Linked DNA regions of Homo sapiens. The protein of the gene in region 2 purifies or fractionates together with the protein of the main gene of each other region. This does not show direct contact. Each region holds a gene or a part of one and is shown on either strand. Other genes may lie near its edges. The genes, in order: SS18L1, BICRA and ARID1B.

Evidence for each region.
Region 1: the proteins of BICRA (region 2) and SS18L1 purify together in Homo sapiens (affinity purification with mass spectrometry, with the first as the bait; one large-scale study listed by BioGRID). This does not show direct contact.
Region 3: the proteins of BICRA (region 2) and ARID1B purify together in Homo sapiens (affinity purification with mass spectrometry, with the first as the bait; one large-scale study listed by BioGRID). This does not show direct contact.

What each region holds. Positions count from the first base shown.
Region 1 is NC_000020.11:62,174,619-62,178,342, reverse strand, and holds part of SS18L1 (calcium-responsive transactivator), read right to left. Parts: coding exon 3,699-3,724; coding exon of another isoform or gene 3,612-3,698; exon of another isoform or gene 2,025-3,611; intron 1-2,024. UniProt on the Homo sapiens protein: Transcriptional activator which is required for calcium-dependent dendritic growth and branching in cortical neurons. Recruits CREB-binding protein (CREBBP) to nuclear bodies.
Region 2 is NC_000019.10:47,612,123-47,615,846, reverse strand, and holds part of BICRA (BRD4-interacting chromatin-remodeling complex-associated protein), read right to left. Parts: intron 1-3,724. UniProt on the Homo sapiens protein: Component of SWI/SNF chromatin remodeling subcomplex GBAF that carries out key enzymatic activities, changing chromatin structure by altering DNA-histone contacts within a nucleosome in an ATP-dependent manner.
Region 3 is NC_000006.12:157,203,878-157,207,377, forward strand, and holds part of ARID1B (AT-rich interactive domain-containing protein 1B), read left to right. Parts: coding exon 1-119; intron 120-2,289; coding exon 2,290-3,500. UniProt on the Homo sapiens protein: Involved in transcriptional activation and repression of select genes by chromatin remodeling (alteration of DNA-nucleosome topology).

The DNA.
Region 1 (3,724 bases), on a different chromosome or scaffold from region 2:
CATCTCTACTAAAAATACAAAAAAAAAAATTAGCCAGGTGGTAGTGGCACGTGCCTGTAATCCCAGCTACTTGGGAGGCTGAGGCAGGAGAATCACTGGGCCTGAGAGGTGGAGGTTGCAGTGAACCGAGATCATGCCACTGTATTCCAGTGTGGGTGACAGAGTGAGACCTTGTCTCAAAAAAAAAAAAAAAAAAAAAAAGAATAAGCCACATGTTGTGGCGCATGCCCCGGAGGTTGAGGCTGCGGTGAGCCATGTTCCTGCCAATGCACTCCAGCCTGGGCGACAGAGTGAGACCCTGTCTTAAAAAAAAAAAAAAAAAAAAAGGCCAGGCACAGTGGCTCATGCCTGTAGGATTACAGTCCCAGCACTTTGGAAGGATCACCTGAGGTCAGGAGCTCGAGACCACCCTGGCCAACATGGCGAAACCCTGTCTCTACTAAAAATACAAAAATTAGCCAGGTGTGATAGTACGTGCTTGTAATCCCAGCTACTCCGGATGCTGAGGCAGGAGAATTGCTAGAACCCGAGAGGCAGAGGCTGCAGTGAGCGAGATCGTGCCACTGCACTCCAGCCTGGGCAACAGAGCAAGACTCCATCTCAAAAACAACAACAAAAAACAACATGAAGAAGAGAAACTAGAGAGCCTGTGCCCCACAAGGCCACAAGGCAGAATTCCTTGGGCAGCAAAACGGAGCATCGGACCTGTGGTGAAAGCCACTCGGGAGACTGCCACAGGGGAAGACAACGGATCATCATCTGCATGCCTGTTCTCCATGTGTCCCCAGCTAGTTAATGATCAGATTTCCCGAATGCCCCCAGCGAGGAAGTGGGGGAGGGAGGAAAGCTGTTCCAGCCTGACCGAACACGTCACATTCTCATTCCCAGAGCTGCCTGTGATGATTCTAGTTAGTGGGAGTCTGTTCTGATGTCTTTCTGCTCCTGCACCATTGGGTAAGACGGAAAGCCTCAAATCCAGAGCTGCTCAGCTGAAGGCATGGCAGCCCTGGAGCCCTATAAAACCACTGGCAGCCCCAATGCCTCAGCACCTTTTTTTTTTTTTTGAGACAGAGTTTCGCTCTTGTTGCCCATGCTGGAATACAATGGCGCGATCTCAGCTCACTGCAACCTCCGTCTCTATCTGCTCCCGCCCGCCTCTGCTTTCCAAAGTGCTATAGGCGTGAGCCACAGCGCCTGGCCGCCTCAGCACATGTTTAAGTGTAGCCCAGTGGTTCTCAAACGGAGACAGTTTTGCCCCTGGGGCATCTGACAATGTCTGGAGTCATTTTAAATTGTCAGACTGGGCAATGGGGGTGCTACTGGCATCGTGGTGGAGGCCAGGGGTGCTGCAAACATAACACAGTGTGCACAATGGCCCCTAGGAGACGCCCAGCGCCGGCAGTGCTGTGCCAAAGCGCCACGGCCAGCTACACTGGATGCTGACTAAAGGCTATCTTAATATTTTGCAGTTAGATGGACACATTTCCCCCCAGATGTGAAATTCTATTCTCTATCTTCCCCATTGCTCTGTGTCTTTTTCTTTTTTTTGAGATGGAGTCTCTCTGTCGCCCAGGCTGGGGTGCAGTGGCGTGATCTCAACTCACCTCTGCCTTCCCGGTTCAAGCGATTCTCCCACCTCAGCTTCCCCAATAGCTGGGCTTACAGGCACCCGGCTAATTTTTGTATTTTTAGCAGAGATGGGGTTTCACCATGTTGGCCAGGCTGCTCTCCAACTCCTGACTGCAGGTGATCTACCCGCCTCAGCCTCCCAAAGTGCTGGAATTACAGGTGTAAGCCCCCACGCCTGGCCTTTCTTTTTCCTTTTTTTAAGACAAAGTCTCGCTCTCTGTAGCCCAGGCTGGAGTGTAATGGTGCAATCACGACTCACTACAGCCTCGACCTCCTGGGCTCAAGGGATCCTCGTGCCTCAGCCTTCCAAGTAGCTGGGATTACAGGCATGCACCACCATGCCTGACTACTTTATTTTTTGTAGAGACAGGTCTTGCTATGTTACCCTGGCTGGTCTCAAACTCCTGGGCTCTAGTGATCCTCCTGCCTTGGCCTCCCAAAGTGCTGGGATTACAGGCATGGGCCACCACGACCGGTCACGGTCTTTTCATAGGTAGGTATAAAGTTATATGTCCTCTGGTTCAGTCTTATAATTAAGTTAGGACATTCACTTATTTCACAAAATCCAAATAAGTTATTTTCAGGACTGTATGAAGGAGGTATGGCGTCTCATCAGAATCATTCACATATAATTCTAATTTAACATCAGGATGCAGACTGCTGTCCTTCCAGACTCCAGCATGACACTCCTGTGCAAACCTGGAGGGCCAAGCTGGGGCCTGCTCCCCGCTGACCAGCGCCCAGCACACACTGGGGAGAGGCGGCCCCTGCGTCGGCTACAGTGGCCTCACAGTGTCCTGAGAGCACACCAGAGCCCTCCTGACATCTGTGTAAATGCCTCATCAGCGTGCCCTTCCCAGGCATGGCCGAGTACGGTGCCCTGGCAGGGAGACTGTGTTACATGGTCTTTAGGCTTCTCTACATCTACCTGGTGACCCTTTGCCCTCTTGAAGAAGGAGGACGAGAAGCATTTAAAAAACAGTCTTTGGCCTCTTACCTACCCAATTCCCTGAGAAAAACAAACTTGAGCGATGTAGTGCTTTGAAATTTCACTGGCAGTGTAAAGTGTCCCTAACACCTCCAGCCACCTCAGAGTCACCAACACAGAGCCACTTCCTGCTAAGGACTCTCTCAAAGGAGGCTCCAAAAAATGTCCCAGACCATTCTCCTTCATATGCCCTGTGCTCCAGCCACCGAGCCTCCTTCAGGCTGCCTTCACTGGGACAAACCTCCTGGTGCCTCAGGACCTTGGCACGCCCTCTTCCCTTGCCTGGCTCATTCTCCTCTAGGAGGCCCTCGCTCCTGCAGTGCTCCCACCACACAGACCCTGTCCTCCTCCAGGGGCCCCATCCCACTCAGAGGGAAAGCGATGTCTGCTTTATGGAGGCCCCTACGCCCACCTGTCCCTGTCACCTCCCGCCACACCGGCCTCCTCACTGTCCCGAGAGCTCCCGCTCTTCCATCTTCCAAGCTGCTCTTTCCTCAGCTCCTTCAAAGCCCTGCTCACTGTTCCTGGGCAGAAAGGGCTTCCCCCTCCCTAGGCTGAGCCTGGGGCTGCCAGCCACTCCCCGCTGTGTCTTCGTCCTGGAATTGCCCACACGGGCCAAATGCGGTCGCCTGCGCCCCCATCTGGAAGGCGGGCTCCATTTGGGGCCCCCCGCTCTGTCCTCAGCACAGTCTGGCCCTGTGGGACCACCTTATGTCTCTGTAGCGAGACATAAGCTCTAAAAGTGCAGGGTTCGTGTCGCGGCCACACACCAAGCACTCAGCAGAGACCGGACGCGTACCCAGTACGTGACAAACACTGGCAGAGTGAATGAATGTGAGAACCAGGCGTGCAGATCTAACGGTGAGCTTAGGGTATGAAAAGCCAGCTGGATGACTGAGGTGAGCGTATACACAGAGGCAATTCTGCAAAACCTTACAGGCTCAGAGACTTAACGTTCTGGAAGGAACCCTGGAAGCCAGTTAGTTCCAGCTCATTATTCCTCATGGCCATAAGAGAAATCTTCATTATGTCTCGACAGGCGCGGCGGATGGGCACATCTGGAAACATCCAGAAAGCTTGCCTGTTCATAGCCGTAGGGCCGCTGCT
Region 2 (3,724 bases):
GCATCATGGGCCCATTTTATAGACAAGGAAACTGAGGCCATGCAAAGGAATTGCTTGCCCAGGGTCACACTGCAATTAAGCAGAGAAGCCAGCATTCCATCCAACACCTGCCAATTAAGGGGGTCACAGTCCCCAGGAGAAATAAACTGCCTAAGAATGACAGGTGACACCGACACTGACTGACAAGGCTACCTTGGCACTTTATGGGTGTTTGGGGACCCTCACAAGAGCCTTACCAAGTAGGTACTGATATGAACCCACTTAATAGAGGGGAAAACCAAGGCCCCAAGCAAGTCCCCTGTCCACAGCCATTCAGCCAGCAAATAGCAGAACTGGGATTAGAACCAACAGGCAGGGCCCAGAGCCCACGCTCCTGACCTCCACACCAGGTGGCAAGCACATGACGCAGGCCATAAGCAGGAGGAAGAGGCAAGGAGGTCATCAGACACAAGGAGGTCACCTGAGGCAAAGACACGTGCAGCCTGGAGATGCTGCCTGGGCGACAGGTGGGATCACATTGAAGAGGAGAGAAAGAGAACAACTTTCTTCAAGGTGCAGCATGAGGGGCCGGGCACGGTGGCTCACGCCTGTAATCCCAGCACATTGGGAGGCCAAGGCGGGAGGAGTGCTTGAACAGGATTTCAAGACCAGCCTGGGCAACACAGTGAGACCTCGTCTTTACCAAAAATATTAAAACTCCCTGGGCGTGGTGGCGTGCACCTGTAGTCCCAGCTACTGGGGAGGCTGAGATGCGAGGCTCACTTGAGCCCAGGAAGGATAATGCTGCAGTGAAAAGTGATGGCGCCACTGCACTCCAGCCTGGGTGACACAGCAAGATTCTGTCTCAAAAAAATAAAAAAAGATGCAACGTGCAACATCAAAGGTGCTCCGTAAGAGCTACCAAAAGACAAATCACTGGCCCTTGATCTAGCAATCCCACTTCCAGGAGTCTATCCCACAGGCGTACTCATTTCCCTGTAACATGTGCGGACGTATGCCTTCCCATGCTTCACACAGAAACCTTTGGAAACACCTCCACGTCCATAACAGTAAAGGAGGATTCACCCACACAGAGGAATACCATGCAGCCAAGAAAAAGATAGAGGAAGACCTACATTGGTAGGGTCTCCCAGGGAGATGAAGCGTGGAAAAAAAGCAATGCATAGACCAGACTACCATCTGTGTAAGATGAATAGTTTTTTGTTTGTCTGTTTGTTTGTTTTAGACAGAGTCTCGCTGTGTCGCCCAGGCTGGAGTGGAGTGCAGTGCTACCGCAATCTCGGCTCACCGCAACCTCCGCCTCCTGCATTCAAGCAATTCCCCTGCCTCAGGCTCCTGAGTAGCTGGGATTACAGCCATGCACCACCATGCCCAGCTCATTTTTGTATTTTTAGGAGAGATGGGGTTTCACCATGTTGGCCAGGCTGGTCTTGAACTCCTGACCGCAGGTGATCTGCCCACTTCAGCCTCCCAAAGTGCTGGGATTACAGGCGTGAGCCACCATGCCCGGCCTGAATAGTTTTAAACACATAACATCCATATATAAAAGTACATGCACAGAACATCAGAATGGAGGTGCTGTCTCTGGGGAAGAGAGCTAGGGGACCAGGGATTCTGGAGAGGTTAGAGGGAGAGACACCATCTTTAGTGTTCTGAATTTGCCCCGTGTGTGTATCACTTAGAACAAAAGGAACAAAAGGCAGACAGAGAAAAAGATGATGTCTCAGACCACCCAGACAGAATGAATGAAACCCCACAGCGGCTAATCCAACCGTTCTCTCTCCTCCTCCTGGACTGTGTCCCAAGGTCTTAACTGATCCCCAGGGCCCTGTCACACAGTAGGCCCTCAGGAAGTTTAATTGGGAACAATTAAAGAAACAAAGGCCTTCTCTGCTTGTGCCAACACTCCTTTCCCCCTCCCCCCAATGAATACATACACTCATACACAAAACTAATTGTCACCAAACTAGAAATGCCTTAGAAAACTCTCCCTCTCCACTGGGGAAACTTGCGTGTCACTGAGACACAAAAGCTTCAGTCAACTGGGACAAAACTCTACTGGTGGTACTCCAGGCAGAGGAGAATGCGAGGGACGGAACCAGGAGACACTCCCTGGGGACCCCTCAACCAAACGCTCCCCATGCGTCTCTAGTGTGGCATAAGGTGCATCCTACCAGGGAGCTAGCTCAGACAAGACAGGGGACAAAAAACCAGAGGGATATGAAGGGGTGAGTAAGGAGGGGGCAATTCTTCTGCTGGGGGAGCAGGCAGCAGTTGTCATCGTGGACACGGCACGGGTGACTGCTCTTGTTTCTACTAAGTGAGGGTGCCTGGTCGGGGAAGAAAGCTCAAATATGACCAGGGCAAGATAACCATACTCCCCACCCCTCTCCCCTGCAGGGCGGGAGAAGGGAAATGGCAGCCCCTCTGCCTTCCAAGCCCAGGCGGCCTGGAAAGGAATGCCATGTTTTCCTGTTTCCAATTAACTTCCCCTACCAGCAGCCTTCTGCATTCTTGAGACCTGGAGTCAAGGCAGCCTGGCGGGTGGGGGTTGAGAGCTGGCGGGGGAACTGGGCTGCTGGCTAGACCTGGGCTACAAGGTGGCCCACGGGAACCTGGGGAGCCTTATACACCCCCAGGAACTCCCCCTTCATAGGCCTCTGGGTGCTGATCCCCTGGCCCTTCCACAGCCTGGGGCACACCCCACCTCCTGAAGGAAGGTTAGGGAAGGGCCACAGGCCTCTGAGAAGGAAGTCAGCCGGGAGACCCTCTAGGGCCTCACTCGGACTTCTCCCACCAGCCCCCCAAAAAGATCAGTTCCTACATTCAGCCAGCACTCAATCTTGAGAGATCTGGGTGTCCCCACAGCCCCTCTCCTCCTGCCCACCTCCCCCGAGAATTCTTATTACTTATGCCTGTCATCTCGCCAAGGGAAATAACTGCACTTAAAGGAGGGGACAGTGGCTGCGGGGATAAGGGGTCCCTTAAAGCTCCTGGGATCAGACCCCATGAAGCACCATCTCCCCAGTTCTGTTGACAAATACGGAACCCCCACCACTAGTCTCTGCCGTCTGGCTTGGAGTCCCAGCTCGGCCGTGGAACATGCTTCCCCTGGCCTCAGTTTCCCCATCTGTAAAATGGCAAGATCACCTGTATTACCTCCTACACTGGGTGAGCTGGGTCCAGCCCCTCTCCGTCAGCCCCCCAGCCCCTCTCCCTCAGCCCCCCAGCCCCTACAGCTAAGCATGTATTCCGCATGGGTAAAGTGCTGAAGGGGTAGGGGCCTAGTCCCCAAAGCGCTCAGAGGGTGCGTGTCACTGAAGGGGAATTGTTCGTTTGCAGGTGGCCTTCCCAGACCACAGGGAATTCTTCTGGGGCAAAGGTATTCTGCCACTCACCTTTACATTTTTTATTTTATTTATTTTTTTTTTTTGAGACAGGGTCTCACTCTTGCCCAGGCTTGAGAGCAGTGGCACAATCACGGCTCACCCCAGCTTCAAACTCCTAGGCTCAAGCAATCCTCCCACCTCAGCACCCCCAAGTAGCTAGGACCACAGGTGAGTGCCACCATGCCCAACTAATTTTTTCATTTTTTGTAGACACAGGGTCTCACCGTGTTGCCTAGGCTGGTCTTAAAATCCAGGGCTCAAGCAATCCTCCAGCCTCGGTCTCCCCAAGTGTTGGGGTTACAGGTGTGAGCCATGGCACCTGGCCTTAAATTTAA
Region 3 (3,500 bases), on a different chromosome or scaffold from region 2:
CGTGGCGTGTGATGATGTCCCTTAAATCAGGTCTTTTGGCTGAGAGTACGTGGGCTTTGGACACTATTAATATTCTTCTGTATGATGACAGCACTGTTGCTACTTTCAATCTCTCCCAGGTAAGCCAGCATAGTCCAACTAACAACCAAATTAGGATAGGAGAGCATCAGGCCATGCACATTTGTGCTTGAACTAATGCCTGAGTTGATGAGCACTGACCGTCCAACACTGTTAATCACTGCAGTTGTTATCAACCAGCCTTAATCAATGTAGAGTTATCTGGGATAATATTCACTGTAGTCTTTAGTGTGTGTACACACACATACCTCTATTTCTTATGAGAGAACAGTGACTGTGTGTGTATGTGTATATGGGATAGATGACAGTAGTAACATTAAATTGTTCAGAATGAATATTAGCTGGCCAATGGGAAGAAATCAAAATGTAACATTAAGTTGTGACTGGAGTCAGCATTGGAAACACAGTTGGTTGCAATGGGACATAACCCTGCTTTCCAGGAGGACTTGACATCTTCTTTTCATTAAAAAGATATTCAAGATTTAGAAATTTTATATTCTATACATTTATAGAATGTATAAATATATATAGAAGGAGAGAGAGCAGTTTAATGAACCCCCATGTACCTGTCAGTCAGCTAAAATAGTTATGAACTCATGGCTAAACTTACTTCTTAGTCTATGCTCTCTCATTTCTGCCTCTCTCCAGGTTATTTTGAAGCAGTCATGTAAAAGCCTACTACTTTTAATGAGCTTAAACCCCTCCTTTGTTCAGAGGTAGGCTTCAGGTAGCTTCCAGCATAATAGCTAGAAGAGAGGAGCACTGAAGTTTGGGGAAAATGCCCGAGTCCACTGGGCTATAGACTTTTAAAGAAATATTTAGAAATAAAAAATGGAAAAAGGTCATTTTCCCTATAGTATACAAACAACTCTCTACTTTGAGTGCAAAAACTAAAACACTTAATTTCCTTGCTTCTAAGGAAATAAGACCAGAATCTTCTACTTCTTTCTTCTCTCATTTAAGCCCTCATTATCAGCCTAGAAAGGCAATTTTTCAATTGCTAGAAAGTTTATTAATAAGGTCATAAACATTGTACGAGTTCTGTGTTAACAGAAAATAAGTATTTAAAAACTGTATACTGCATTTGCTAGAGTAATGCGCTTTCATCCTTATGTTAGGTGAACTGTTGTTGATCACATATTTGCATAACCAGAATTGCTTTATTAACTTTCCCTTTTCCCCTGGAAAAAAAAGGGAAAATGCCCTTGGAACATTGTGCCTTCAGCACACTAAAAGCAGTTCTTTCTAGTTGGTGCTGGGGGCTTCCCCTGACTTCTTAAAAATTGTTCCAACTCTACTTTCAAGAAACTGACAGTAGGATATGAAGGTATAGCTGATTTCCAGAACATCTACCGGGAAAGAATCCTTGTTAGAATCCTTGTTACTTACTCTTTAGAGTTCCTAAACATGGTGGGGGGTGTTGGGAGAGAGGGCAGTTGCTAATCGTGAAGTGTATTGGTTTTTTCTTGGTACAGTTGCTTAAAGGAAACCAAACTTGTTCTTGTAGTCAGTGGTTCTCTCATAGTGGTTTTTGCCTTTCAGCTAGAGTCATAAATAACTGAAATGTAAAATTGCATTTTATGAAACATTTTAATTTATTTATCATAGGCTAAATTGATTTGTTTTTAATTTTCAGTGTTCATGAGCTACCACATTGCTGAAATTATCTTCTCCAAAAGATATATAGAGAACATAAATTAGGGTGACCTATGGTACCTGAGACAAAAATAACCATAAAATCCTAAGAATAACAACCATAAAAATCCCGGCAAGCAAGTCTCAGATAAATAATAGAAGAGAACAGAGTCACTTTGGGCAAAAGAGTCTATAAAATCCATGTTCCCACTCTTCTAATAATGAGTACATTGTCTCTAAATCAGGAACAGAAAGGTAAAGAACAGCAAGGCACTCCCTCAGTGATAAGATTAGAGATATGAGAATAAAAAGTAAGTTTTCGTGTAGATAGTCTAAGCAAGGAAGCAGCAAATAAGGAACATGCTAAACATCGGTTTAGTTTATACTGTAAAATTCAGGAAGTTCGCTGGACCTGAAGGGTAGTTTATCTTTCATGGTCCAGCCAAAAAGGGAGACAAACGTGTGACAATGATGGAAAGGTATTGACGGGTCTCAGGATCTTTACCCTCCTCGGTCATATCTGATGTCATGACATTGTACCTGTTCTTTCTTTCTTCTCCTCCTCCTCCTCTCCAGTTGTCTGGATTTCTCGAACTTTTAGTCGAGTACTTTAGAAAATGCCTGATTGACATTTTTGGAATTCTTATGGAATATGAAGTGGGAGACCCCAGCCAAAAAGCACTTGATCACAACGCAGCAAGGAAGGATGACAGCCAGTCCTTGGCAGACGATTCTGGGAAAGAGGAGGAAGATGCTGAATGTATTGATGACGACGAGGAAGACGAGGAGGATGAGGAGGAAGACAGCGAGAAGACAGAAAGCGATGAAAAGAGCAGCATCGCTCTGACTGCCCCGGACGCCGCTGCAGACCCAAAGGAGAAGCCCAAGCAAGCCAGTAAGTTCGACAAGCTGCCAATAAAGATAGTCAAAAAGAACAACCTGTTTGTTGTTGACCGATCTGACAAGTTGGGGCGTGTGCAGGAGTTCAATAGTGGCCTTCTGCACTGGCAGCTCGGCGGGGGTGACACCACCGAGCACATTCAGACTCACTTTGAGAGCAAGATGGAAATTCCTCCTCGCAGGCGCCCACCTCCCCCCTTAAGCTCCGCAGGTAGAAAGAAAGAGCAAGAAGGCAAAGGCGACTCTGAAGAGCAGCAAGAGAAAAGCATCATAGCAACCATCGATGACGTCCTCTCTGCTCGGCCAGGGGCATTGCCTGAAGACGCAAACCCTGGGCCCCAGACCGAAAGCAGTAAGTTTCCCTTTGGTATCCAGCAAGCCAAAAGTCACCGGAACATCAAGCTGCTGGAGGACGAGCCCAGGAGCCGAGACGAGACTCCTCTGTGTACCATCGCGCACTGGCAGGACTCGCTGGCTAAGCGATGCATCTGTGTGTCCAATATTGTCCGTAGCTTGTCATTCGTGCCTGGCAATGATGCCGAAATGTCCAAACATCCAGGCCTGGTGCTGATCCTGGGGAAGCTGATTCTTCTTCACCACGAGCATCCAGAGAGAAAGCGAGCACCGCAGACCTATGAGAAAGAGGAGGATGAGGACAAGGGGGTGGCCTGCAGCAAAGATGAGTGGTGGTGGGACTGCCTCGAGGTCTTGAGGGATAACACGTTGGTCACGTTGGCCAACATTTCCGGGCAGCTAGACTTGTCTGCTTACACGGAAAGCATCTGCTTGCCAATTTTGGATGGCTTGCTGCACTGGATGGTGTGCCCGTCTGCAGAGGCACAAGATCCCTTTCCAACTGTGGGACCCAACTCGGTCCTGTCGCCTCA